4 separate regions of the Homo sapiens genome follow, and all the other regions are reported to be linked to region 2. Evidence: microRNA targets listed by miRTarBase, many of them from high-throughput screens and not tested one by one. Region 2 holds a microRNA gene; each other region holds the end of a gene's coding sequence. Distances are between the middles of the regions.

Region 1 (7,126 bases), not on the chromosome of region 2:
TTTTAGCATTTCCTGATCTTTTTCAACCCCTTCACTGTCAGCCTTTTGGGTCACCCCTTTATTTTAGGTGGTCTCCCATAACCATCATATACACGTTTGTGACGTCATTTACAAATCAACTTGAAAATGTCCCTAAGTAGCTGAATTTAACCAGTTCACATTTACTATGATTAACAATATGCTTCAACTTACTCCTGCCATCTTATCCTTTCCTGTTTTTTTAATTTCTTCTCCTAATGTTTACTGGATCAAGTGAGGCAAGCAAAACACAGAGGATTCAGTTCTTTCCAGACACTGCCTGTTTCAACTATAACAATGTGGCAACAACAGCTCCAGGAAGTAGGGCTTGCTGCTCTACCAGACTCTCCCGTCATCCTCCACAGACTGTAGAAACAGGACTTACCCTTGAGACTAAGTCCCTGTGGGTCTTGACCTTATCTCAGAAAGGGGAGCGGGGGGCACACAAGGATGGAAGAGTATCAGGGGTAAAAAAAAAAAAAAAAAAAAAAGACATTTTGGGGACAGACAGGATGAAGACTAAAGAGGACTGACTTAAACAGTCAGAGATCCCAGGCAAGTGAGGTAGGACATAAAAATTAGACATGAGAGAACATGGCATTGAGCAATATGAATAGGTCTATTTGAGAACCTAAATACAACCCACACCAGTACTGGGGCCCTCACCCATTTTACAGCAAGAACTGCCTCCTCTGTAACCAAGACAGATTCAGTTGAGATCTAGTGTTTTCCATTCAGGTAGCCAATTCCGTCCACGTCCAGCCAGTCCCCTCTGAATACTCAATTGTCCTCACCTATATTCTTTTAATACACTGTTCGCAGAACTGTTGTCTTAAGCGTATGACATCGAAACTGCCACACAGCCTACCTCCTGGGCCCAGCATAACAACACATGCACATGTATCCTTCCATTTTATGCCAACGTCCTTTTCCCTCTTTCCTCACAACACAGCGTTGTGTTTTTTCCTCCGTTTATTATACCCATCATTTCCTATCCATTCCACTAACTGGAACTCTTAGGCACCCCTTTTGCCTCCCAAGATCCCCAAACAACGAGTAACCATATGCCAGCCAGTGTTCTTTATCTCTTAGAGTCACAAACATAAGGAAAGCCCCCTTTCCTAGAAAAATGCATAGACCTACAGGTACACAAAATTCTGCACATAACTTAAAAAGGTTCTAGACCTCCCCAAAAGCCGTCTGCAGGTCTTAGGTTTTAAAATTCTGTAAATACAACACCCCCACCATAATTCATGATGCAGAGAAGACCTGGATCAGGGCCAGCAAAGAATTAAGAGGGGGAGGGAAAGTCGGTCTCTCAGCGAAGCCATATTTAGACACAGTATTTAGGAAGGTACAGAGTCTATAAAATGCATACATCCGCCTAAAAATACACAAAATCTGTATGTGCTACTTTACTCTAGAAATGCAGTTTATTTACATATGCCTAAATCTGAGCAATAAAATTGCTTTGGTATAAAGTGTCATTTTCCACCGATATTTATGACAAGTTCTTACTGGCATAAACACACACACAGCCTTGGGATCTCTGGATTTGTTCATGTGTTTTGTAATATGTTAAAATGAGAATGATAAAAAAAATTCTTAAGTTTCAACTTACTTATGATTATAAAGTTATTCTACTTCATGTACATTGAGAGTGGAAATAAAGATATCCCAGGCCTCCCTGCCCCTTAGGGGTTTGGGTAAACTTGACTCAAAACTCCATTAATTCCATGGCCTGTAGCAGCTTTTAGCTACCCTGAAGATTTCTGCATATTCTGCATATTCCTTGGAGCTTGTTCTCAGGGGCACCCTCTTCTGGCTCCTATATTTATGTGTGGTACTTACGTGTTGCCCCATTTCACCCTGGATACAGCACTCAGCCCTTCCACCAGTTTCCATAAGAAATCCACCATGCCAAACACCCCTAACTTTAGGGAAAGACTTTGTGGTCACGAAGTTTTCCTACACAAGAGCTCAGAACTTCAGACCATCCTACTCCACTGGTTCCCTGGTCCTCTCTCCCACTCCAAGTCTACCCTTTGTTTTCTTACCTCCAACTACCCCAGGAGATTCAAGTTCTCTCTCTTACCATGTGGAGCAATTCAGCCCTCTCCAGGTCCTACCCCAATTTTAGATGTCCAAACCCACCACAGAGCTCAGCAAAACAAAAAGGAATCCAAATAACATGACCTTTCTTCCTTAATAGGCAACTGGGAATAGGAATTCGTTATAGCACTAAATGCTAGGCACTTTACGTTTATTTACTTCTCCCAACATTTCCATGAATTAGATATTTTCAAAACCATTTTAAAGATGAGAAACTTGAGGTTTAGAAAAATTAAGAAAATGAATATGGTTAGAGGAAGTGCTCTATCATCTTCATTTTTCCTCTCTTCCTCTCTAATCCATAGATCTTAACTCAGCTTTGCTATTTATATATGGCTCTTGCCCTGTAGTAGTATCAACCTTTCTCATCTTTTCCTAGATTTTACCACTGAGTATATTTTCCATCTGCTTCTGATATTTGCTTTCCATTCACCTAGTTTTTCAAATTTCTGAGAATATCAGTACATTACAAAGACTGAGAAATAATTCAAAAATTTTAAGAACAGAGCCAAGAGCTAGAAGGTCCCTTGGAAGGAATCATGTCCATGCTCACACAACACAAAGTAATCCCTCTTCAATTTCTGAGATGGCCTGACGAGCTGTGCCCACATTCTCACGCAGTAGACTATCTCAATGTTGGACTCTGATGCAAAGAGTTCTTCCTATCTGCAAGAGGCAATCTGCCGTTTATTCATGCTTCCAAGTTAGAAACCATGCAGTCATTCTGGACTTATCTTGGCTCACACTCTAAATCCTAGCAGATTCACCAAGAGTGAATCCCATCACAGATGACCTACCCTTGCCCCCACCCCCCACCCCCATCAGAAGGGCTAGTTTGGGTTGCTCCCATCCCAATGGTGGAATTGCAATGCAGACTTGTCTCTCAAAGCTGGTAGACGCCACAGCCAGTCAGACTGTTGACTGCGGCACAGAACGTGGGCCCCCTCTGCTTCAGCTGACAGCACTTCACGCCTTCCCAGGCATGGGCTGCAGTCAGCAGGGGCCAGGGCAGGGCTTGGAGGAACTGCCAAGGGGCACCAGGAAGATCACAGAAAGCACCAAAATGGATCACCCAAGGAAAAGGAATTAGCTGCCAACATTTTAAGATTAAACTGTGTGTGAAAATCGAGGTTGGTGTTTTCTTAGAAGAGCTGTGGGCCTGTATTCGCCGTGAACACAGAGCCACAGCCGAGCTGAGGCAGTCCTCTCAGTGGACTGTGCTCTCTCCAGATGGATTATTCCTGACTTGAGTCATTTATTACCTGTGTGGCTGTGACCTCAGACCAAGGTGTCCTCACACCTTAGTGTGCCCGAGAAAGGCCCATTCGAGGCTTGTTGTCCAGATGTGAGTATCAACAGCACCCCCTCCCTTCACTCTCAAGTGCTCAGTTTGGACAATAAATTACATGGTCACCCTGGGCTTAATGTGCAAGCCAATTCTCCACCACACACCCATACCCATACTCCCACACACGACCACTGAATTCACACAACTACATGTCAAGCACAGAACCCTGTTATAAAGCGATTTTATTAAATTGATTTGGACATACTGTAGGTCAAATAATATTTTCTGAAGATAACAATTATGGACTTTAAAGCTCGACATAAAATTAGTAGCTTCAAAAGGGTTAGTCATATTCCCCAGCAACAGCATGATAAAATAATTCAACTATGTAGAAATATAGAACTCTAGGACTAGCTGGAAACTCGGAAATCATTTAGCCTAATGTTCTCATTTTGAGAGAAAACTAGACTCAAAGATTAAGCGATTTGCCCAAGCTCACATACCTAATAGTAATAAAGCTAGAAATCAAACCAATTTTTCCTAAAACTAAAATTCTATCAATGATATTTCAACTGGCTATCAACTAAAAGTCTAGGCTTTTCTCTAATGCTCCACGCTATTGTGACATGAAAGAGTGATAAGACACTACAGTAAATCGTACTTGTGGAATTCAGGCCTGGAAGGGGCTTTGGCAAATAACTAAGCCAGCCCTCTCTTTGTAAAAAGGAGGAAAAGTATCTGAAGTGACTTACCAAAGGCTTGTTAGCAGAGATGTCTGGATTAAAATCCAGATATTGACAAATTCACCCCCAAATCCCATCTCTAGTTTCATGGCCCACCCACTAAATCATGTGCTCCTTTTAAATCTCCTTTATGCGCTGAGGTTTTAGTTATACAAAAACCCCTTCCAGTCAAACAGAAAAAATTAATTCAAATATGGAAAGAAAAATCAAACTTTCAGTATTTTCGTGACTATCTTGAGTAGTTCATTTTCCAACCTCTTAGACAGCTGACAGACACCACTAACCTGATCACCTATTTCAGAGCTTCAAAGATCCTTAATTTCCCCAAAGACTTCCTGAGCAAAAGGACTACATGTGGGAAATCAATGAAAACAGGAATGAGAAGAGAAAGTTAAAAATTGGTTGCTTTTGTTCCTGTCATTGGGGACTTTTGGTCTTCTAAACATTCCTTGAGTTCCTCCACATGAGTTTTTAATATCAATCTAGCAAAAATTAAAACAAACAAAAAAAGGCCTCTGAAAGTCAGGATACTGACCACCTCGGCATCTCTCCCCTTCCCCACTGCTTGCGAATGCCAGTGCTGGCCTGTTCCTTAAACGCACCAGCTCATCCCCCAGAGCAGCCTGTGTGCTCTGCCAGCGACTGCTACTTCTCCTCCGGCCTCAGCTCAACATCCCACCGCGGAAAGGCCTCCCTGACCACTAGCTAATGTCACCCCACCCCCACCCCACCCCACCACTAAAATCATCACCCTAGTTTATTTTCTTCATAGCACTTAATCACTATCTCAAACTACATTATTTATTTGTTTACTTATCATCTGTCTCCTCCACCAGAAGTAAACTCCACAAGAGTAGGGACCTTGTCTGTCTCATCAGTGGTATTCCCAGCACCTAGCACAGTGCCTGGCATATAGGAGGTGTTCAATACATATTTGTTGAATGAAGAAAAGAATGATGGATTAATAAAGACGTTCATGCCTAACAAAGAACTGATACACAGTAATCAATGAAGGGGTATCAAGAACTCCTATGCATTATTGCCCAAGATTACAGAAATAGAGATTGAAACATTAGTGACTCCTCCTACCATCCACTTCTCATAAGGTCTCCCTAGCTAGGAAGGAGCTCCATCTGTTACCAAAGGAGCCCAGAGGGCAATTCTGGATGAAGAAAAGCTCTCACTTTGCTTGCTTCTTCCTCCCTGCTATTTACATTCAGCTATTTCCAAAAAAATTCAAGTGAAAAATATGTGATGCAGCCACTACAAAATAAGTCTAACAGAGACAGTGATGAGCAGAATCCACACAAATAAAAAAGGTTCAAGGACATATATGTCTGCCAATGACTTTTCTGATAGGCTAAGTGAATGGGAATTATGAGTCACCTAAAATCTAAAATGAAAGTTAATGCCATCTAGGAAGGGATGGATATTTATGGGGATTTTGAGGACATATATTCAGAAATAATAGGATATATGGAAAGATATGTAGGGGCTAAATCAAGTGTTAACCTCAGAAATACCAGAACGTGATCTTAGTGGGAGCTGTCTGTTTTCCAATGCATTGCCAGTATGCTCGAATAAAGAGGAAGGAAGGGCATGAGCTCCTCAAGGGGGAGTATCTGGGATAGCTTTTAAGCAAAGTATAGATAGAAGGTGACTCAGGAGGCCGGGCAATGATTGTGGCTTTTTGTGTAGTCTTTCAACTATGGAGGCATCGTGCTGGAATCCCAGGAAGCGACGTCTGTGACTGGGACCTGAGAGCCATCCTGCGTGGATGCTCAGAGGTCCACATTCAAAGTCAACCTGTGGAACACACTTGGCATGAACCAACAAATCAATCTCACATATGCCTCCTCAGAAACAATGTTCTGCTAGGGATTGCGTAAATATTTCTTGGGTCAATGTAGGTATATACAGGGTTTCCTTCCTAGTGGCACTTATGGGTTTTAAGATTTTAAACTCTTAGCAAAACGTTTTATATAACTGATATTTTGAGATGGTTTCTCTCCTTTGTGTGGACTCTCTGGTGGATGCAGAGGCTCGTACTCTGACTGAAGGCCTTTCCGCACTCATCACATTTGAAAGGTTTCTCTCCTGTGTGGACTCTCTGGTGGATGCACAGGCTCGAACTCTGACTGAAGGCCTTCCCACATCCACAACATCTATAGGGTTTCTCTCCAGTGTGGACTCTCTGGTGGATGCAGAGGCTCGAACTCTGACTGAACGCCTTCCCACACTCATAACATTTATAGGGTTTCTCTCCTGTGTGGACTCTTTGATGCATGCAGAGGCTGGAGGTGTGCCTGAAGGCCTTCCCACACTCTTCACATTTAAAGGGCTTCTCTCCGGTGTGGACTCTCTGATGCATGCAAAGGTTTGAACTATTACTAAAGCCCCTTCCACACTCACTACAGACATACGGTTTCTCACCTGTATGAACTCTCATATGAATTTGAAGATGGGAGCTCCAATTGAAGGCTTTGCCACACTCGTAACATTTATAGGGCTTCTCCACTGTGTGGATTTTCTTATGTCTATTAAGTTTTGTTGTAGTGCTAAAATCCTTACCACAATCATCACATTTATAGACCTTCTCTCCTGTATGGTCTCTCCAATGAATATGAAGTTCTGATATATGAAAGAAACCCTTATCACACTTGTCACATTTATGGGGCTTCTCAGCTGTGTGAATTTTCTGATGCATAAAAAGATCTGCTCTCTCAGAGAAAAATTCCCTACACATGGGGCACTTGTAGATCATTTTTCCTATTTGGTATCGTGATTTCAAGGAGAAAATTTCCTTATGATTACTACAGTTACAAGACTGTTATTTCATAGAGTCTCTTATTTGGCCATTTTGGCAGTCTATCTCAGGCTTGCTCTATTAGGTAAGTTTAAGGTCAGCCTAAGCTTTTCCCTGCCTGTCTTTCTACGGAAGGTTTCTTCCTGCATAGTGTTCCTC
Region 2 (7,126 bases):
CTACATAAGTGACCTCAATTATCTGGACTCCAAGATTAAATTTATTCATATCATCTAAAAGTTGAGTATGTGTCAGAACTGAATAAATGTCTTGCTTTTTCTTTTTTGCTTTTAATGTTTTCATTCAATATTGTCAAATCCTACTCAAATCTTACTTTTCAATCCTTTGCTTCATAAGTGTGGAGCCAACCTGAAGATACAGTGAATACTGTTGTCGTTTTTTTTCTCAAACTATTAAATCAGAGCTAATTTCCTTGAAACAAAAGACCTCAAAGAGCCTGATTGAAATATGTTTGGGAAAGGATGATATGAACTGTGGCCATCCCTTTCCAATGCTAGTTTAAAAAGGTCTTGATTGCAGGCAATACCTGATAGAAATAATATTAATAAGAGTTTTCTTTTTCTTTAACTTTACCACATTTTTATTATTTTACCTTGTTCTTAATTCTGGGATTACTCTTGTATGCCTGTATCACATGCATCTTTATCTGTAGCTTTAGAACATGATGATTTTTACCATGTTTGATAATGCATTACCTCTTATTTCTGTCTGGGAAAAGTGTAGAATGCAATACAATATCAAACTTTACTTTTTGGCAATAGTCAAAATCATAGCCTGATATATCATGATATAGTTTGAGCAGAAATGAATTATTGTGGAAACACAGGTAGTAGATGATAATTAAACCTATGATTTGCTAATTAAATTTTGATGTAAGTAGGGATGGTTGTCCACATTATGACATAAGGCAAAATGTACATAAAAATCCCTTAGAAAAATCTTGGTGCTTTTATTTTTACCCAAGTAATCTTTTCTTTAATCTGTAAGACTACTATGATGGATTACTATGATATCCTTTTAGCTAGAAAGAAATCTAAGTTGGAACGGTATTAAATTTATTATAAGTAAAATAAAAATGAGCATTCTTCTCTGCATTAATTTTTATTGGAAAGTTCATGTTCTATCATTAATACATCTTTACTAAATACAACATTTATTGAGTATTCATAGAGTGAATATTATTCTATCATTTACTCTAAAATTTGATCAGGAATGGTGGCTCACACCTGTAATCCTAGCACTTTGGGAGGCTGAAGTGGGAGGATCTCTTGAGGCCAGGAGTTTGAGACCAGCTTGGGCAATATAGTGAGGCCTCATCTCTACAAAAATAAAATAAAATGAATTAAAATTAAGTAAAATAAAATAAAATTCATGGAGGTTTGTGGTTTTTTACTTCTTTTGGTTGTGATTGTATGCATATATATAAATAAATATACATATAACATTCAAAGACTTTACAGTTTATTGAAAATCAGAGGGATAAAACAGAGGCAATACAACAATGCAGCGTAATTAGAATTATAGAATATAGAGCTTACAAATAACTTAAGGCTCCATCTGGTCATTATCTATAGTAACATTTCCAGAGAACTGAAATCAAAGTAGATGTAACTACACAATGGTAAAACTGTTCCAGTGCATGTCATAGGATAAATACTCCAGAAAACTTTAATGAACAAATGAATTGTTCACTACCTACTTAGCAAATAAATTCAGATCTCCTCTAAGTCTTAAGCTTCATTTTTTTTCCTCAAATGAATATATTTTTTAAATATTTAAGATCCATTCAATTTACTTTGGATTGTGTAACTGTTGGGAAATGACCTAAGTTGATATTTCCTGTGTAAAACAGTAACACTCTCATTTTTATTTGGATCTACCTTGAGCCATAAATAATATTGGAATCTGGAGAAATCCTGAATGACTTAGCATTTTACAACTTTTTTGTTTTTCTCTTAATTGAACTAGAACATGAAAAAGTGCCAAGGAGTGTATATAAAAGAAAGAATTATCACTCTTACGATTTCTGGAGATTGACTTCTTAGTTTTAAGAGAATTTTGAATTTTCTACATTTATTTTGATAATCTTACACCCATATATATGAGCATACCAAAGATTGTTTGTATGACCAATTTATACCCATGTCCCACTGCTTTACTGAAGTCCTGGAGTTTGCATTTGCATTGGCCCCAAGTAAAGGACAAATTACATCATGGCAAGCTGTACAAATAAAGCTTTTACAGCCATTTACATAAGGCATAGTAGGGGGGAAATTGTCACCAAATAGCACATGGTCTTTCAACTCTGAAGAACTCAACAGAACCTGTACTGTAGCAGTCAGTGTCATAATTATTTCACTGGCAGATGTGTTGTATAGATTTAATTTTGAACAAGTAATGATGATACTAAATATATAATAAAGGACTTCATACTCCAAAATTTTTTTGCCTTTTATGAATATGATTGAATTGATTGGATCTTCAAAATAATTCCCTGATAGTTAAAATTTTGAGTTTTTTAAAGGCAAAAATAAAGGCAACGATAACTACTATAATTTAAATAAGGGTCAAAATAAGAATGACAAAAGTGAGAAAGTATTGCTTCATAGTTTTAATTTCATTGGTAATTGTATTTTTTTATAAAAATTATAATCTATGGCATATTAAATTAATGTTGTTAATTTGAATTTTAGTGATTTGGTAGGAAGCTTTAGTATTTTATTTGAAAATGAAATTTAATAGATTTCAGAGCTATAAGTAAAATAAGTTTATATCTTATTTTACATAAAAATTTTATTTTATACAATTATATCAAAACATATATAAGTTTTGTTGGTATGTTTTTAGCTGATATTATAAAAATTGATACTTAGAATTAAAGTGTACTTATCATTAATTATTTTTTAGCTGAAAATGGTCCATAGATTAAGGAAGTTGAAAAAACACTGGGAGAGTCCTCATTATGGTTGCTTTAAATGTAGACCGACATTTGCTCTTTTGTGTTTCCTGCTGTTTCTTTTTTTTTTCATAATTAGTAGCAATAAAATGCCATAAATATTTTTAACAATGTGTATGTTCATTTCAGGGTTAAAAGAGAAAAGTAGAGTAAATAATACTTCCTTCTTTTTTGCAAGAGGTTTAAGGGGACCTATTTAGTGGCACAGGTAGTATCCATAGAAGCGAAATAAGCAAGTTATATGCTATTGAAACTAAAAACAAACCAAACAAGAGATACATGCCCCACTTGTGACGGAAATATGCTTGTGGGAATGCAATCAATGAAAAGCTCTCATGTGTCCCCTGGTCAGACTACTTGAGGTTCCATAGTAAACCTCAAATAGCGTGCCAGGGGACACATGAGAGCTTGGGCTAGACCAGAGCAGGGCTGTCTAAGAAACGAACTTGACAAATTCAACTGTAACATCCTTTGTAGGCAGCACTACCAACCGTGGTACCTCCTGGACATCTCTCCAGCATAAGGAGCAAGGCAAGCCCTCTTTTCTCAAGGCTTTTATTCTCTCAGCCACGCCTTCACCCCCATTCCCTTCCCAACCCCACACACATAGAACAAAACTTAAAAGAACAAAAATTGCATCCTCTTCTAGAAATGGTAAAACTAGAGAATTTTTTCTGGATGCAGTTTGTTAAATTCAACATATTTTGCTAGATAACGATTTTACCTCTTTAATTAACACAGATAAATGATCTATTACTATTGCTTTCTTCTAGGCTTGTGCCATATGTGTAATATTAGACACTATATCTAATAACAATAAAATGTCGGAAGGGTTGCATGTTTGTCTTGCTATTAGAGATTTTGTCTAATATTACATACATATATATGTGTGTATGTAATTATATATAGAGAGAATATATATTTATATAGATAACATATATCTATAGAGATATATAGAGAACATATATCTCTATATCTATAGAGATATGTAGAGAACATATATCTCTATATCGATAGAGATATGTAGAGAACATATATCTCTATATCGATAGAGATATGTAGAGAACATATATCTCTATATCGATAGAGATATGTAGAGAACATATATCTCTATATCGATAGAGATATGTAGAGAACATATATCTCTATATCGATAGAGATATGTAGAGAACATATATCTCTATATCGATAGAGATATGTAGAGAACATATATCTCTATATCGATAGAGATATGTAGAGAACATATATCTCTATATCGATAGAGATATGTAGAGAACATATATCTCTATATCGATAGAGATATGTAGAGAACATATATCTCTATATCGATAGAGATATGTAGAGAACATATATCTCTATATCGATAGAGATATGTAGAGAACATATATCTCTATATCGATAGAGATATGTAGAGAACATATAGCTCTATATCGATAGAGATATGTAGAGAACATATAGCTCTATATCGATAGAGATATGTAGAGAACATATAGCTCTATATCGATAGAGATATGTAGAGAACATATAGCTCTATATCGATAGAGATATGTAGAGAACATATAGCTCTATATCGATAGAGATATGTAGAGAACATATAGCTCTATATCGATAGAGATATGTAGAGAACATATAGCTCTATATCGATAGAGATATGTAGAGAACATATAGCTCTATATCTATAGAGATATGTAGAGAACATATAGCTCTATATCTATAGAGATATGTAGAGAACATATAGCTCTATATCTATAGAGATATGTAGAGAACATATAGCTCTATATCTATAGAGATATGTAGAGAACATATAGCTCTATATCTATAGAGATATGTAGAGAACATATAGCTCTATATCTATAGAGATATGTAGAGAACATATAGCTCTATATCTATAGAGATATGTAGAGAACATATATCTCTATATCTATAGAGATATGTAGAGAACATATATCTCTATATCTATAGAGATATGTAGAGAACATATATCTCTATATCTATAGAGATATGTAGAGAACATATATCTCTATATCTATAGAGATATGTAGAGAACATATATCTCTATATCTATAGAGATATGTAGAGAACATATATCTCTATATCTATAGAGATATGTAGAGAACATATATCTCTATATCTATAGAGATATGTAGAGAACATATATCTCTATATCTATAGAGATATGTAGAGAACATATATCTCTATAGATATAGAGATATGTAGAGAACATATATCTCTATAGATATAGAGATATGTAGAGAACATATATCTCTATAGATATAGAGATATGTAGAGAACATATATCTCTATAGATATAGAGATATGTAGAGAACATATATCTCTATAGATATAGAGTTATGTAGAGAACATATATCTCTATAGATATAGAGATATGTAGAGAACATATATCTCTATAGATATAGAGATATGTAGAGAACATATATCTCTACAGATATAGAGAGATATATAGAGAACATATATCTCTACAGATATAGAGAGATATATAGAGAACATATATCTCTACAGATATAGAGAGATATATAGAGAACATATATCTCTACAGATATAGAGAGATATATAGAGAACATATATCTCTACAGATATAGAGAGATATATAGAGAATATATATCTCTACAGATATAGAGAGATATATAGAGAATATATATCTCTACAGATATAGAGAGATATAGAGAATATATATCTCTACAGATATAGAGATATATATAGAGAATATATATCTCTACAGATATAGAGATATATATAGAGAATATATATCTCTACAGATATAGAGATATATATAGAGAATATATATCTCTATAGATATAGAGATATATATAGAGAATATATATCTCTATAGATATAGAGATATATATAGAGAATATATATCTCTATATCTATAGAGATAGATGTAGAGAATATATATTCTCTATATCTATAGAGATAGATGTAGAGAATATATATTCTCTATATCTATAGAGATAGATGTAGAGAATATATATTCTCTATATCTATAGAGATAGATGTAGAGAATATATATTCTCTATATCTATAGAGATAGATGTAGAGAATATATATTCTCTATATCTATAGAGATAGATGTAGAGAATATATATTCTCTATATCTATAGAGATAGATGTAGAGAATATATATTCTCTATATCTATAGAGATATATAGAGAATATATATTTTCTATATCTATAGAGATATATAGAGAATATATATTCTCTATATCTATAGAGATATATAGAGAATATATATTCTCTATATCTATAGAGATATAGAGAATATATATCTATATAGAGAGATATATGTGTGTAATATTAGACACTATAATAATAATAAAATGTCTGAAGCGTTGTGTGTGTATTATTAGATATTATATCTGTATCTCTATATAGATACACCTATATATACACATATACACACATACACAGACACACACATACACACATATATATATTTTATTTAGATATATATAGAGAGAGAGACAGAGAGAGAAGGTTAAAAATAAATAGAAGTATTAAAATTTTTCAGGAGAAAGATTTAAAGAAATGTAATCCTAGACTAAAAGAGAGTATCATGGCCTCACTGATACTACTATTATTTCAAAATAAGCTAATCTTTTATGTGTAACTATGATGTCTGACTGTTTTATACTGAAGTAATACATCTAATACTGATGACACATATGTGTGTATGACTCTGTCATATTTATCTTTTCAATTTCTGTCTCATTTTATGCCTGACATATGGAGAAGTTGAGAATAGTTAAGTCGCCAATAAAAAATACAAAAAAAAAAAAGAAACATTTTAAAAATAGGGAATGTATGGCTTTGTGACCTAGAAAAAATAAAGCCTTTATAAAAGGACCGTTTGAGGTATGCATGGGACTTTGACAGATAAGTATGAGATGAAGGAATTCCACATAGAAGGAACATGGACAAAATCAGAGATGGCAACGTATAGAATATTCTTTATATTTATAAATTAAACAGTTGAACTACAGAGTAGAAAACTTGACAAAAGGAAATTTAGAGTAGGCTATACTGGATGGCCTTGAGTGTAAGGGAAAGTGCCAGGTATTTAATTTGAGAGCCATATACTTTTATTGAAGGATTTTCTGCAGGAGTAAAATATAGTTTGGTTTACTTTTTTTTTTTTTTTTTTCTTGAGAAAGAGTCTTGCTCTGTAACCAAGGCCAGAGTGCAGTGGCGCAATCTCTGTTCACTGCAACCTTCACCTCCAGGGTTCAAGCGATTCTCCTGCCTCAGCCTCCTGAGTAGCTGGGACTACAGGCGCCCGCCACCACGCCCGGCTACTTTTTGTATTTTTA
Region 3 (7,124 bases), 13 Mb from region 2:
AGAAATCTTGCCTGTTTTTATAAGGTGCAGAAAGTATCCTGCTTTTGTATTTCTCTGCTTTTTAATTGAGCCCATCAATGCCCACAAGGTCCTATAGCTAAAGATGGGAAATAGATATATCTGTACAATAACCAAACAAAATTCTTGTTAACTAACAAGAAATAATACTGAGTGATTTCCCTTTTTGCATTCATTGGGAGTTTGGCAGGGAGGTTCTCTACTATAGATCCTCAGGAGCAGTTTTTGTTTTTGTTTTTTGTTCTTCCTCCTGTGGGAACAAATCTAGAAAATAAGTCTCCAAAAAGAAAAAGAAACTGCAGTTTACTGTCAGACCATGGCTAAAATAGTAGAAATAGGAGGCCATCCTCACTGCCTAGCTCAGATGAAAGAGCACAGGCTTTGTGGGGTCTAAGAAGGGTCAATAAGAACCAAGTGTATAAAGTGTGTCATGGAAGCTTTGTACTTTTGTTTTAATTTTAAGGACCAAGGAATGCTTTTTTTCCATTAAAATAAAAGGAAAGAAGGAAGAAAATAAAAGAAAGAGAAGAAAAGTGAAGGAAAAGGTTTTCTCTCATCAGAACATGCCCAAGAGATAGCAATTTTGTATTAGTAATTAGAATGAAGATGTATTTAAAAGTATTTTAATGATAATTTTAAGGTTTTGATAGATAGTGCCAGTGATAGTGAAAAAAAAAAGCATCAGATTAATCATTTGGTTTGTGTGCCTTTTGCGTATCACCTCTAAAAGTGTCAATGAATTTGACATAAATGAACAGTTTCTTCTATAAATTATCTTTTTATTTTTAAATAACACTGTAACATACTAACAGCGCACTAAGAAACATCTGTATTTCCATGATATTCAAGTTATTTAACTTGAAATTTTAAATCCTGAGCTCATCATTAGTTCTACAGAGAGATTAACTGTATTAAAATTTGTCAGTGTAAGGAAAGGTACAAAATTATCAAATATCATATTCCATATTAAAATTGAATTGCTTTAAAACATTCAAAACCACAAATATTAGACAACTACCTTCTTTAGTTTTCAATGCTTTTTCTTTCTTGTAAATTTACTAACGGACTAATCTTATAGTTGAGACCCATCATATATTAAGCCTATTGTTGGTACCCAGAGAGTGAGAGGAATGTTTTTACTTGTGTCCTAGGAATCCATGTCAGTGAACGCCTCACATGGAAAAGGATTTTCCCGACCTGCTAGACCAGCAAATCGTCGTCTCCCCTCCAGATGGGCATCCAGATCTCCATCTGCACCCCCTGCCTTGCGGAGAACTACCCACAACTATACCATTTCTCTGCGATCCGAAGCATTGATGGTTTAAGTCTTTGGCCTGGATTGCTATATTACAGAAGTTCTAGTCCCACTTGTCAAACAGAGCATTCTGAGTGTTTACAGGCGGACCTGTTCTCTTCCGACAAGCAATTTGAATCTTAACTTTCCATCAGTCTTCAGTGTTTTTAATCTAAGGAATAATTATCTTCCTGCATTTTGATTTCTTAGATCAGAATTTTTTAATGCCATCCTCATTAGTTTTCCAATACAATATAAGTTGAAACAATGTACAATATTGTATATTCTTTGTTGCAAGTGGCAGAAAGTAAGGTTATGTGCATGGCCATGTGTTTGTAGGTGCATGTGTTGAAATAGGAAGTATCCTAGTATGTATTTAGATATGAAAAACTTATGTGCTAGTGTTGACTTTGAAATTATAACATGTATACCTATATATTCTTTGTGTTTATTTAAAAGTTTTGAAAATATGCAGTACTGTTTATATTTTGTATACCTTTTAATAGGTATCCACTTAAGGCATTTGCAGTACAAATATTAATTGACCACTTCCTTGGCCCCCAGCTACAATGAAAAAGAAGAATTATGCACACATCTAACATTGGTAGATTTCTAAAGACAACTCATAAATAATTTCTTAACCCATATAAGGATAAAATAATACCATTGATATTCTTGTTTATTCTTTTTAAATAAAAATGTCACAAGTTTAATAGATCAGCCTTGTAAAGCAAGCATAAAATGTTCATAAATGTTTTATATATTATTTGGTAGTCTAGTATGGCTTTAACTGAATATTTGATCCTCAGAGACAGTATCATGAGACTGCATTATAAATGACATGATTAAATGATGAATTTATTTTGTCAGCCTCAGCAACAAACATTTCCTAAATGGGATGCAAAAAGAAACTGAATGATGTTGAATTTTAGTTTTTCTTTAAGTTGTGGTAAGCTTTTAGTTTAGCTGCTTTAACATGGAGTCATACATACTTAGAGGTAAGTCATTTATTATTTTTTTCCTTTTTCTAATCTTTTCCTTAAAATTAATAGATAACAAACTAAGTTACTTTTTTACTAACAAGGAAGATCAGGAATAATATTTCTTTGAAAGCTGAAATTATACTTCTCACAGTTTGCTACCGAAAAAAGGCTTAAACTAAACCTTGACATCCACAGTAGCATCAGGAATAGAAATGTGTATTTTGGCTACAGTTTGCATACAGTGAACACATAAAATCTATATTGAAAACTGACAGAAATATGAATGTCGAGGGGCTTGGAATTCTAAATGGAAGATTTTAGAAGGAACTTTGCTCTCTACTGTCACTATATAAAACCAATTATGTTATGTTATTAGATATTAACTCTATTTAAGCTTTTCTTTTACTAAGAAATTCTTATGCCAAATGTATTCCAAGAGCCATCTCCTTATGATGTATTTGAACCATTTAGAGAAATTCACTTCATTGTACCCCATGACCTGAGGTAAAGAAAATAATTTTCAAATTGCAGACTTCCTTGAAAGGCTCAAGACTGTAGCATGGTGATGTCTAGATTCATACTTTACTGTAAGGACAGTTTCGGTAGTTAAGTGGAATTAAAGGTCTAGAGTGATTTGTATTGGATGGTAACTAAGGTCTATACATCTACTCTTTTAATTCTTATTTCCTTCAGGAAGATCCTTTTCCACAGGAAGCTATCAAAGAAAAGTAAACTAGACACCAAGTAATATCACTCTCATAATATGCTTTCCAGCTAGAGGGGAGAAAACACCAGGAAAGAGGAACCCTGGGTCATAAAATGACGGACCTGTTAGGAAAATGCTGTTGTGTGACAATGGAGAGCCTGCCCAAGGACTGTGCAACCTATCTGTTCCTCTCCACCAGTGTATCCCAAGTAGTCTGGTATGATCTGTGGTTCCTTAGAATATTGAGGATCTCTTTAAAAAATGAAATTTCTGATCTCACCCCATATTACTAAAGCAAAATTTCCAGGGGTAGGGACTGGGACTCCAGAACCATTAATAAAACAAAACAAAACAAAGCAAAATATTGATGATCAGGCAGATTTGAAAACAGTGACATTGCTTGATCTCTGAATGGATGGATGCCCTTGGGTGGTCACTTTTCTTCCTAGGACTTGCCTTTGTTATCTGTAAATTAGAATGGCTATACTTTCAGACTTCACAATTTTAAGCCACTTTTTTCTATTAACAGTTGAATGAACCAGTGGGACACATTTTAACGTCTTCTTATGTTGACTAAAATTATAGTTAGAGCTGAGAAAAAAAAAATAGCATCTAGTCCAACTCCTTGATTGTAAAACTGAAAAACTAAGGTTATTTGAATGTTCTGTTTTCTCTTTTTAAATATTTTATAACTTTTAAATGGAAAAACCTATTAGGTAAATGGAAATAATCCTTGAAAATAGTTTTTGATGTTTTGTGATTTTTAACTGGTAAATTTCTACTTTAGGTGGGCATTTTCTTCCCTAGAATATGCCCTTTATTATGCTATCATTGCTAGATTTAAAGGGACTTGTAAGCATTTCTGGAAATATTTGATTTAAAAACATATATTAATAGATGTTTTCCCTAGCAGACTTTTGGAGCAAAAATATTATTTTAGTTCAGCAGAGGATTACTGATATTATGGGCTGATCTCAGAAAGGAATAAGGATGAGGCAGAGAGGAGTACTTGAGTTTGTGTGTGTGTGTGTGTGTGTGTGTTTGTGTCAGTGTCACATAAGTTCTCCATATTGCCTTATGTCCCAAAGCCAAATATAAAAATATAAATGATGCTTTGTATAATTCATTTTATCAAAAATTACCCATAACTTTCATTTGTTTTTATATCGACAATGAAGATGATCATATTTCATTTTGCAGATGTGGCCATAAAATATTATTTACTTCTATATAGGTGATTTTACCAGGTTTAGTTATCCTGAGAAAACATCTGGACTTAAGAGTTTCTGCTTCCCTACAAAGATCTTTAAAGTTATTTTTAGGCACATTTGTGACAAACAACTACTTGATATTGAAATCTCCTTCAGCCATTAGAAGCTATCAAATAAAGTAGGTGTAAAAACAACTGTCTGTGGCATTTGTATACATCGAGAACATTTTTCTTTCCCTCATTTTCTGCAGTGAACTCCAGTAAAGCTAAGTGTCTTATGAAATCTAAACTCATATATGTACACAGTTCACTCTAGCTTCTTCCAAAATATCTCTAGGTAGTACAACTGAAGCCAAACCTGCCTGACTTCCTGCTCCTGGCCACCCAAAACTCCATATGGCTTCTCGTACACTGACATCCTCTCTCTACCCATTTAACTGCTAATTGAGTCTGATAAAAGTCTTCTTTGAAAAAAGTTTTTACTTCTAAGATTTGCATTTACATCATAAAATTAAACCATTTTCAGGAAAATCAGATTTTTTTATTACAGTACTATTTGCTTTAAATTCGGCATGTTTTTCTTAAGTAGCAAGTACATGTATCGGAACTTAGAACTGGTGGGCGCGGTGGCTCTTGCCTGTAATCCCAGCACTTTGGGAGGCCAAGGTGGGGGGATCACGAGGTCAGGAGATGGAGACCATCCTGGTTTCATCACGGTGAAACCCCCTCTCTGCTAAAAATACAAAAAATTAGCCAGGCATTGTGGTGGTCACCTGTAGTCCCAGCTGCTCGGGAGGCTGAGGCAGGAGAATGGCATGAACCCGGGAGGCAGAGCTTGCAGTGAGCAGAGATCGCGCCACTGCACTCCAGCCTGGGTGACAGAGTGAGACTCTGTCTCAAAAAAAAAAAAAAAAAAGAACTTATAACTATGACTTGTTCATCTCACCCTGAAAATATGTTCCTACAAGAAAATGTGCTTTGCAAAGCAAAAAAGGCAAAAATTGGGGATGAGTTCTTCAGACAAGTACCAAAAATGATTTCTCGTCATTTTTATTGTATGCATATTCATCATAGAAAATAATTTTTTGTTTTATTGGGAATAAAATCATGATACTTAAAATCTGATACACATTTCAATGATAGTATTAATCCAATAGGTTAAATTAACAAATTCTTAGGAAAAAAATCTGTTTATATGAAGCTATGGAGAAATCTAGAAAGTAGGTAACGGTTTAGATTTTGAGGGACCTATGAACTCAGAACAAGTTCATTTAGAGGTGGGAAACCTGAGATTCAAAGAGGTCTGCATGGCTGCCAAGATTGCAGGGACAGAATCCAAGCCTGGGCTCACTCATGATCTGCTCTCCTGTATAAATGTCCCATGTGCATCTATGACCTTATTGTTTGCAAAGCAAATTCATATTCCACGACTTGTCTGCTTCTTACAACAAACTACAAGGCAGGCATTGTGATTTCTAAGTAAGAAGGAAAAATTAAGTAGTCAAGATAATATTTAGAATAAATATTTTTGAAGATGATAGTTAAATAGATGGCTCTTCAGACTCCTAGCTCAGGCTATTTTTCCAGCCTTCTTTTCCCAAGGAAGAGAAGACAAAAAAAAAAAAAGATTGAACAGCTCTTTTTCATTTTTGTTTTGTTCATTTTATACATGACACAAATTGTTTATCTTGCTCTCATTGGGAGTTTCTGTTGATTCCCTCTTTCAATGATCATCAAAAGTCATCACCCCTGACTTAAATGGTTTTATGAAATTCAAGAAGTTGTGAACAAGGCTTTAACAAAATATTTCCACTTTTAATGCCTATGCTCTGATTTTATATAAATTTTGTATGTAGGACATGATGTTGAAGTAAAACCAATAAATAGCCAATCAGTATTCATCTCTAGCGTCAACTGAATCCTGACCTCAATCTTCAAAAGAATCAGAATAGTTTCACACTTCATAAGTTACATATACTCCAGAATAAATAAAAGCAGTTTGCTTGAAGTATTATCTTGGCTCATTTGTGCTGCTATAACAAAACACACTTGAGACTGGGTTATTTATAAAGAACAGAAATTTATTTCTCTACAGTTCTGGAGGCTGGGAAGTCCAAGATCAAGCTGCAAGCAGATTCGGTGTCTGGTGAGGGCTGCTGTGTGCTTTCAAGGTGGTGCCTTATTGCTGTGTCTTTATATGGCAGAAGGGGCCAACAATGGAGAAACAGCAGAATAGCAAGAAGCAGCTGAATGCTATGTGATGCTTCTTTTATAAGGGCCTTAAATCCCATTCATGAAAGAGAAGCCTTCATAATCCAATCACCTCCTAAAGGCCCTACCTCTTAATATTGAAGATTAAGTTTCAACATGAATTTTGGAGGTACGTATTCAAACCATAGCAAGCATACAGTAATTTCCAATATAAACCTCACTCAAAATTACAGTCACATGCTGCACAAACCAGTTCAATGCACATATATGATGATAAGATTATAATACAATATTTTTGCTATACTTTTTCTATGTTTACATATACAGATATCATTGTGTTACAATTGCCTTTAGTATTCAGTACAGTAACATGCTGTACAGGTTTGTAGCCTAGGAGCAATAGATCATACTTTCAAGCCTACCATCTAGATTTATATAATTACACTCTGTGATGTTCGCTCAGTGATGAAATCACCTGAGAACACGTTTCTCAGATCATATCCCTGTTGTTAAGCAATGTGACTGCAATTGTGCTCTGCTGCCAGTTTATTTTTGAAGCTTTATTTTTCAATTACTTACTCATGGCAATTTTATAAGAATCATTAAACAAATTTAATCCAGCTATTTGGGATCTGCAGATTTTTTCTTACATAATGCTGACCAGTCTCAACACCAAATTGTCTAACCTGAATTATATATTTG
Region 4 (7,126 bases), not on the chromosome of region 2:
ACAGGCCTGAGCCAAGGTGCCCGGCCTTCTTCTTCTTCTTTTTTTTTCCTTTGAGATGGAGTCTCACTCTGTCGCTAGGCTGGAGTGCAGTGGCACGATCTTGGCTCACTGCAACCTCCACCTCCTGGGTTCAAGCAATTCTCCTGCCTCACCCTCCCAAGTAGCTGGAACTATAGTTGCCCGCCACCACATCCGGCTAATTTTTTTGTTTTTAGTAGAAACAGGGTTTCACCACGTTGGCCACGCTGGTGGCAAACTTTTTTTTTTTTCTTTTTTAAGATGGAGGCTTGCTCTGTCACCCAGGCTGGAGTGCAATGGCGCGATCTTGGCTCACTGCAACCTCTGCCTCCTGGGTTCCAGCAATTCTCCTGCCTCAGCCTCCTGAGTAGCTGAGATTACAGGCGCCCGCCACCACGCCCGGCTAATTTTTGTATTTTTAGTAGAGACAGGGTTTCACCATGTTGACCAGGCTGGTCTCAAACTCCTGGCCTCAGGTGATCCACCAGCCTCAGTCTTCCAAAGTGCTGGGATTACAGGCGTGAGCCACCGTGTCCAGCCTGTATTATTCTTTTATGAGAGATATGTAGATATATGAAAACATAAATTGTGAAGAATATTTATTCAGAAAAACAACCTTCAGAAAATCAGCAATGGCTGATTCAGGACAAATTTCCACCAATCTGTAGTAAAAATTAATGTTCCTGGTGAAGATCCTAGGGCCATATGCAATGCCAGGTATACGATTAAGTATTATAATTAGGCCAGGCATGGTGGCTCATGCCTGTAATCCCAGCACTTTGGGAGGCCAAGGCAGGTGAATCACCCGAGGTCAGGAGTTCGAGACCAGACTGACCAACATGGTGAAACCCCGTCTCTACTAAATATACAAAATTAGCTAGGTGTGGTGGTGTGCACCTGTATTTCCAGCTACTTGGGAGGCTGAGATAGGAGAATTGCTTGAACCTGGGAGGCAGAGGTTACAGTGACCTGAGATCGCACCACTGCACCCCAGCCTGGGTAACAGAGTGAGACTCCATCTAAACAAACAAACCATATATATATATGCTGAAGCGAGCAGATCACTTGAGGTCAGGAGTTTGAGACCAGCCTGGCCAACATGGTAAAACCCCACCTGTACTAAAAATAAAAAAATTAGCTGGGCGTTTGGCACATGCTATAGTCCCAGCTGCTTGGGAGGCTGAGGCAGGAGACTTGCTTGAACCTGGGAGGCGGAGGTTGCAGTGAGCTGAATTCACGCCACTGCATTCCACTCTGGGTGACAGAGCAAGAAAAAAGAATACTTGTACAACAATGAGAGTATTCAGTTAATGAGTGACTCTTGCCCAATTCTGTAACTTTAGAGTAACAAGCGTTGGAAGAAGAGAAGAATGGATACTGGGGAGCAATTGGCAATCTTTATGACAATACAAAACTAATGATGCATAAAAGTTAAAATGAAGTAGACATTAGGTCCACTGACAATTAGGTAATGAGTCTAAATGAATTGGAGCATCCTGTTTTACTTCATTTTCTTTTGTTTTGTCAAAGGAGTTTATGATCTATTGGGATGCCCTAAGTATGTGTTGTAGGCAGTTCTGGGAAGAGTCTTGTGAGTAAAGTGACTCAGGAAACTCTGAAAATGAGGATATTAGGAATTGATGACAACACTGGTGCACAGAAAAAAAAAAACACAGGAATTTTACAATTAAAAGTTTTTATTTAAAAATCTCTCATAACAACACATTACTTAGTATAATCAATTATAATTCAGGATTTTGATGACTTGTACCTGTGTTATTTCTTTTCTTTTCTTTTTTTTTGAGACGGAGTCTTGCTCTGTCCCAGGCTGGAGTGCAGTGGTGTGATCTCAGCTTACTGCAACGTCCGCCTCCCAGGTTCAAGCAATTCTCCTACCTCACCCTCCTCAGTAGCTGGGATTATAGGCGCCTACCACCACACCTGGCTAATTTTTGTAGTTTTAATAGAGACGGGGGTTTCACCATGTTGGCCAGGCTGGTCTCGAACTCCTGACCATAAATGATCTGCTTGCCTTGGCCTCCCAAAATTCTGGGATTACAGGCATGAGCCACCACACCTGGCCTGTTATTTCTTTTTTCTTTCTTTCTTTTTTTTTTTTTTTTTTGAGACGGAGTTTTGCTCTTCTTGCCCAGGTTGGAGTGCAGTGGCGCGATCTCAGCTCACTGCAACCTCCGCCTCCTGGGTTCAAGCAATTCTCCTGCCTCAGCCTTCCAAGTAGCTGGGATTGCAGGCACCCACCACCATGCCTGGCTTATTTTTGTATTTTTAGTAGAGACGGGGTTTCACCATTTTGGTCAGGCTGGTCTCGAACTCCTACCTCAGATGATCCACGCGCCTCATCCTCCCAAAGTGCTGGGATTACAGGCATGAGCCACTGTGCCTGGCCTGTTATTTCTAAACTGAACCTTTCATTACTTTCTTTAGCCAAAAAACAGGCCTGCTGCATGTACAGGAGGAAGATAGCAATGTTTCAGCCTAAGGGTCCAACCGGAGAAACTAATATGCAGAGATGGGGCTGTGAGATGGCCCTATTGGGTTGGAATCAGAACTAGAAGTCACACAACCTTGAACCCTATCAGAGCCTCATCAGCTCAGTTTAGGGATAGGGCAGGTATATCCTCCTTGGATATTCACTAACTTGAAAGTTAAAAGCAGTTTTCCTGGTTTTCATGCTGGCAGTCTTTATATGCACCAAATCTTTTCTAGCCTTCCTGGTGTACCTATCTTTGGAGCTGCTCACCACCAAATTCTGGAGGTACACAGCTCTAAGCTAATGGTAGGGGCAGGAAAGACATGTGGAAAGAAATAAATACTCAAGCTGCCCCCACAGAGACTGATCTTTCCTGCTGTGTCATCTTCCTTGAGGATGGACAAACATAACTTTTGTCCCGAGATAATGTATAATGTACACTCTTATCCCTTGACTCCCACCTTGCCTCCCCTTCCTACAATAACCCTCCAAGCCATTCAACCCCTACTCTCAGTGAGACTCTCACTAACTACCCCCCATCTCTTTCTTCCCCTACTAGGAAACTGAGCCCAATTACCAAGTCCTGATTCGCATCCTTATCTCTCGATGTGAGACTGACCTTCTGAGTATCAGAGCTGAGTTCAGGAAGAAATTTGGGAAGTCCCTCTACTCTTCTCTCCAGGTGAAACTTGGCTACTTCTTAGCCTGGAGCCTCAGGCCTTCACTCCTCACCTCCACCCTCACTCCCTGCACACAGCTGAGCATATTCTTGCCCCATAGAAAACCCAGTAGTTAGCCAGGCACAGTGGCTCACGCCTGTAATCCCAGCACTTTGAGAGGCTGAGGTGGGCGGATCACGAGGTCAGGAGTTCAAGACCACCCTGACCAACATGGTGAAACCCCGTCTCTACTAAAAATACAAAAATTAGCCAGGCATGGTGGCGTGCACCTGTAATCCCAGCTACTCAGGAGGCTGAGGCAGGAGAGTCGCTTGAACCCAGAAGGCAGAGGTTGCAGTGAGCCAAGATCGTGCCACTGCACTCCCACCTGGGTGACAGGGCAAGACTCCATCTTAAAAAAGAAAACCCAGGAGTCTTTGGTTAATGTAGTGCAGGACTCTGAGCTCCCGGGAGGACCCTTCCCTCCCAGATGAACTGTGATGGACCAGCCCAAAGGAGGGGAGAGAGCACTTGGGCCATAGTGGTGGTGGATCTTTCTAACACTGAATTCCCTTGTCTGCAGGATGCAGTGAAAGGGGATTGCCAGTCAGCCCTCCTGGCCTTGTGCAGGGCTGAAGACATGTGAGACTTCCCTGCCCCACCCCACATGACATCCGAGGATCTGAGATTTCCGTGTTTGGCTGAACCTGGGAGACCAGCTGGGCCTCCAAGTAGGATAACCCCTCACTGAGCACCACATTCTCTAGCTTCTTGTTGAGGCTGGAACTGTTTCTTTAAAATCCCTTAATTTTCCCATCTCAAAATTATATCTGTACCTGGGTCATCCAGCTCCTTCTTGGGTGTGGGGAAATGAGTTTTCTTTGATAGTTTCTGCCTCACTCATCCCTCCTGTACCCTGGCCAGAACATCTCACTGATACTCGAATTCTTTTGGCAAACTTCGCTGTTGTTTGTGTTCCCTGATTGAAGGTTGGGTGGAGCAGGACATGGACCGGGAAGAGGCACTGGAGTTGGAAGTGCCTTTGATGTGCACTTGGCTATTCCGCAGGAATCCTGTTTTGCCTTAGTGCTACAGTAATCCACACCCAGGTCTCCCACTCCAGGTCTCCCCTCACCCTCATTCTCCAGGAAACTTCAGGCAAAATAATTGAGAAACAGGCATTAGAACAAGGTGAGAAATAGAGGGAGCAAAGGACCATCTGTATGAACTGGGAAGCAAGCGGAGGGCCAAGCTACCCTCCCCAGCATGGGAATTCTTGGGTTAGTGGAGAGCACAACCCTCAAATTCATGTGTCCAAGCAGAGATTTGGAAACCCACCTCCCAGGAGAGCACTATTTCCCATAGAAAACAAAAACAAAAACAGAAACAAAAACAAAAAGTCAGGCTTTGGTTCCCCCTGCAGGCTATATTAGAAATGACAGGTAGCTGGGCGCAGTGGCTCACGCCTGTAATTCCAGCACTTCGGGAGGCCAAGGCAGGCGGATTACTTGAGGTCAGGAATTCAAGACTAGCCTGACCAAAGTGGCGAAACCGTCTCTACTAAAAATACAAAAATTAGCTGGGCGCAGTGGCGCATGCCTGTAGTCCCAGCTACTCAGGAGGCTGAGGTAGGAGAATCGCTTGAATCCGGGAGGCGGAGGTTGCAGTGAGCTCAGATTGCACCACTGCACTCCAGCCTGGGCAATACAGCGAGGCTCCATCTCAAAAAAAAAAAAAAAAGAAAAAAAGAAATGACAGGTAACCACCTTCCTGCCTCTGACCCACCTCCCGCTTTTTGCATTCTTCAATTGGGTCAAATACTTAACCCTATTGCTTCAGGGTAAGGCAAACAACAGATCTCAGGAAAGAAGGTTTTTTTTTTTTTTAGACAGTTTTGCTCTTGTCGCCCAGGCTGGAGTGCAATGGTGCGATCTCGGCTCACTGCAACTTTCACCTCCCAGGTTCAAGTGATTCTCCTGCCTCAGCCTCCCGAGTAGCTGGGATTACAGGCGCCCACCATGACGCCCAGCTAATTTCTTGTATTTTTAGTAGAGACGGGGTTTCACCTTTTTGGGCAGGCTGGTCTCGAACTCCTAACCTCAGGTGATCCGCCCACCTTGGCCTCTCAAATTGTTGAGATTACAGGAGTGAGCCACCGTGCCCGGCCAGAAGTTTTATTTCCAAACCCCAGGAAGGCATTACAAATAAGAGATAGAAACCCAAATTAAGCTCTGAAACAACTGGAGACAGGCCTGCCTAGGTGATCAGGAGCATCCAGGCAGCAGGGATGGGAAGCAGAAGAGATGCATTCTGGATAGGGACCTCACCCCAGAGCCTCAGTCTGTACATACGTGTGACTATTCAGGGACCGGGAGTTGAGAACCAGAAACCCACCAATCCTAGTGTTGCCCTGGATGGGAGGCAGAGAAGGCAGCAGCACGTGAGGTCAAGGACATTACCAAGTCTGACCTTGGCATTTGTTGCCTGCTCTCATCCCCAACAGTCCATAAATAAGTTATCCAGCACATCTCAGGGGTGGAGGCGGGGGAGCAAGCCAACTAGCCATAGCCTCTGGAAGAAGGGGCAGGCCAGCCTGGCACTGGGGCAGAGCTACAGCAGAATGCAGTCTGACTCGTGCTTCGGCCTCTGCCGACGCTCCCCGGCTGGGCGTCCAGATGTGGCTCCTCTCCCCTGTATCGGATTTAACAATTGGTCACTGAACTTCCTTGGAAGAGCACAAGAAGAGATTCTAGAAGAAGGGGTGTCAGGATTGGGACAGAGAGTAGGGAGAGGAAGACAGGAAGGGGCTCCAGGGGAGAGGGACAGGCAGGGGAAGGACTCTGAGAGAAGAAACCTTGAAGAGACCAGTGCAGGAATAACAGGTGTTCTGGACCCGGCAAAGCATGAGGTGGAAACCGGGAGTGTGGGCGCCCAGGCAGCAGCCCACCTGCAGTGACAGGACCCGCGTCCGCATCCGCACTGGCTGCGCTGCCTGCTGCTGTTGATACTCCTCTTGCTGAAGCTGCTGGGCCAGCTCCAAGTCGGTAAGCCCCAGCGGGCCTCGTGGCTGTTGCTGCTGCAGGGACAGAGCAATCAGGTAGTCCTGGGGAGAACAAGAGTTGTGCAGTGGGCTGAGGCCCAGAGCCGTGGCTATTCAGGCAAGGTTTCCAAATCAGTTTTCCCACATCCCTCAAATTCTCTAGCTCTTTCTCCCCACAGAGCAGCACACACAGCCAAATGCATTATCTGTGGTGCCAGAGAATACACACCAAGTGAGGAGACGGTCTGAGGTAACCCAGAGAGAGAGGCATGGGTTCACATGGCCTCTAGCAGTTAAAATGTATGCAGTAAAAAGCTCTCTGAGGCACATGTGCTCTCTGCACTTTTCCTAAGTGCCCTACACACCTGGTCTACCTGCAGCTGCGTTTCTGGGGAGCCACTCCCACCTTCTGCTCCAGGCCCCTTGCCCAGGGAATGACTCAGGTGAAAGTCAGAGTCACAAAAGCAGCTGTCTCCATCCACATTGTGCAGGCTCTCCCATACGACTTGCTCCTCCTGTAGAAAGCCCTGGTCAGTGACCAGTAGGTATAAGTGACTCTACAAAGAAAAGAACAGAGCTCATTGGGGGGACAGTTGATACGGAGGCAGTTCACTGCCAGAAATCTCGGTATGAGCATGTGGACTTTTTTTTTCTTGGAGATGGAGTCTCGCTCTGTCATCCAGGCTGGAGTGCAGTGGCACAATCTCTGCTCACCGCAAGCTCTGCCTCCCAGGTTCACACCATTCTCCTGCCTCAGCCTCCCAAGTAGCTGGGACTACAGGCACCCGCCACCATGCCTGGCTAATGTTTGGTATTTTTTTAGTAGAGACGGGGTTTCACCGTGTTAGCCAGGATGGCCTCGATCTCCTGACCTCATGATCTGCCCGCCTCGGCCTCCCAAAGTGCTGGGATTACAGG

Evidence for each region. Region 2 holds the annotated microRNA hsa-miR-4465 (CUCAAGUAGUCUGACCAGGGGA, at 3,139-3,160, opposite strand). A microRNA usually pairs through its seed, bases 2 to 8, with sites in the 3' UTR of a target mRNA and lowers its output. Matches are read on the target gene's strand: a 7mer-m8 pairs with bases 2 to 8, a 7mer-A1 pairs with bases 2 to 7 and ends in A, and an 8mer does both.
Region 1: the mRNA of ZNF664 is a reported target of hsa-miR-4465. Seed matches in the 3' UTR shown: 7mer-A1 at 5,397-5,403.
Region 3: miRTarBase lists KIAA0408 as a target of hsa-miR-4465. Seed matches in the 3' UTR shown: 7mer-m8 at 4,008-4,014 and 7mer-m8 at 4,344-4,350.
Region 4: miRTarBase lists MINDY1 as a target of hsa-miR-4465. The part of its 3' UTR that is shown has no 7-base or 8-base seed match.

What each region holds. Positions count from the first base shown.
Region 1 is chr12:124,011,944-124,019,069 of GRCh38, reverse strand. It overlaps ZNF664 (zinc finger protein 664), which reads right to left. Exons shown (of 5, transcript NM_152437.3): 5 at 3,643-7,126. The coding sequence starts at 6,925. The coding sequence ends at 6,140. All of the region lies in intron 2 of ZNF664-RFLNA (ZNF664-RFLNA readthrough), which reads right to left. Among named protein-coding and RNA genes, the nearest start is that of ZNF664-RFLNA, 42 kb to the right of the region's middle.
Region 2 is chr6:140,679,889-140,687,014 of GRCh38, reverse strand. MIR4465 (microRNA 4465) reads right to left here and starts at 3,201; the gene lies at 3,132-3,201. All of the region lies in intron 4 of LOC105378027 (a long non-coding RNA gene), which reads right to left.
Region 3 is chr6:127,438,328-127,445,451 of GRCh38, reverse strand. KIAA0408 reads left to right here. Exons shown (of 6, transcript NM_014702.5): 6 at 1,170-7,046. The coding sequence ends at 1,343. SOGA3-KIAA0408 (SOGA3-KIAA0408 readthrough) reads left to right here. Exons shown (of 13, transcript NR_174482.1): 13 at 1,170-7,046. Among named protein-coding and RNA genes, the nearest start is that of KIAA0408, 17 kb to the left of the region's middle.
Region 4 is chr1:150,991,509-150,998,634 of GRCh38, forward strand. MINDY1 (MINDY lysine 48 deubiquitinase 1) reads right to left here. Exons shown (of 10, transcript NM_001376665.1): 8 at 6,574-6,765; 9 at 6,116-6,271; 10 at 5,327-5,859. The coding sequence ends at 5,779. It overlaps ANXA9 (annexin A9), which reads left to right. Exons shown (of 14, transcript NM_003568.3): 13 at 3,069-3,191; 14 at 3,752-4,126. The coding sequence ends at 3,814. Among named protein-coding and RNA genes, the nearest start is that of MINDY1, 12 kb to the right of the region's middle. RefSeq lists enhancers at 4,468-4,687, 6,037-6,536.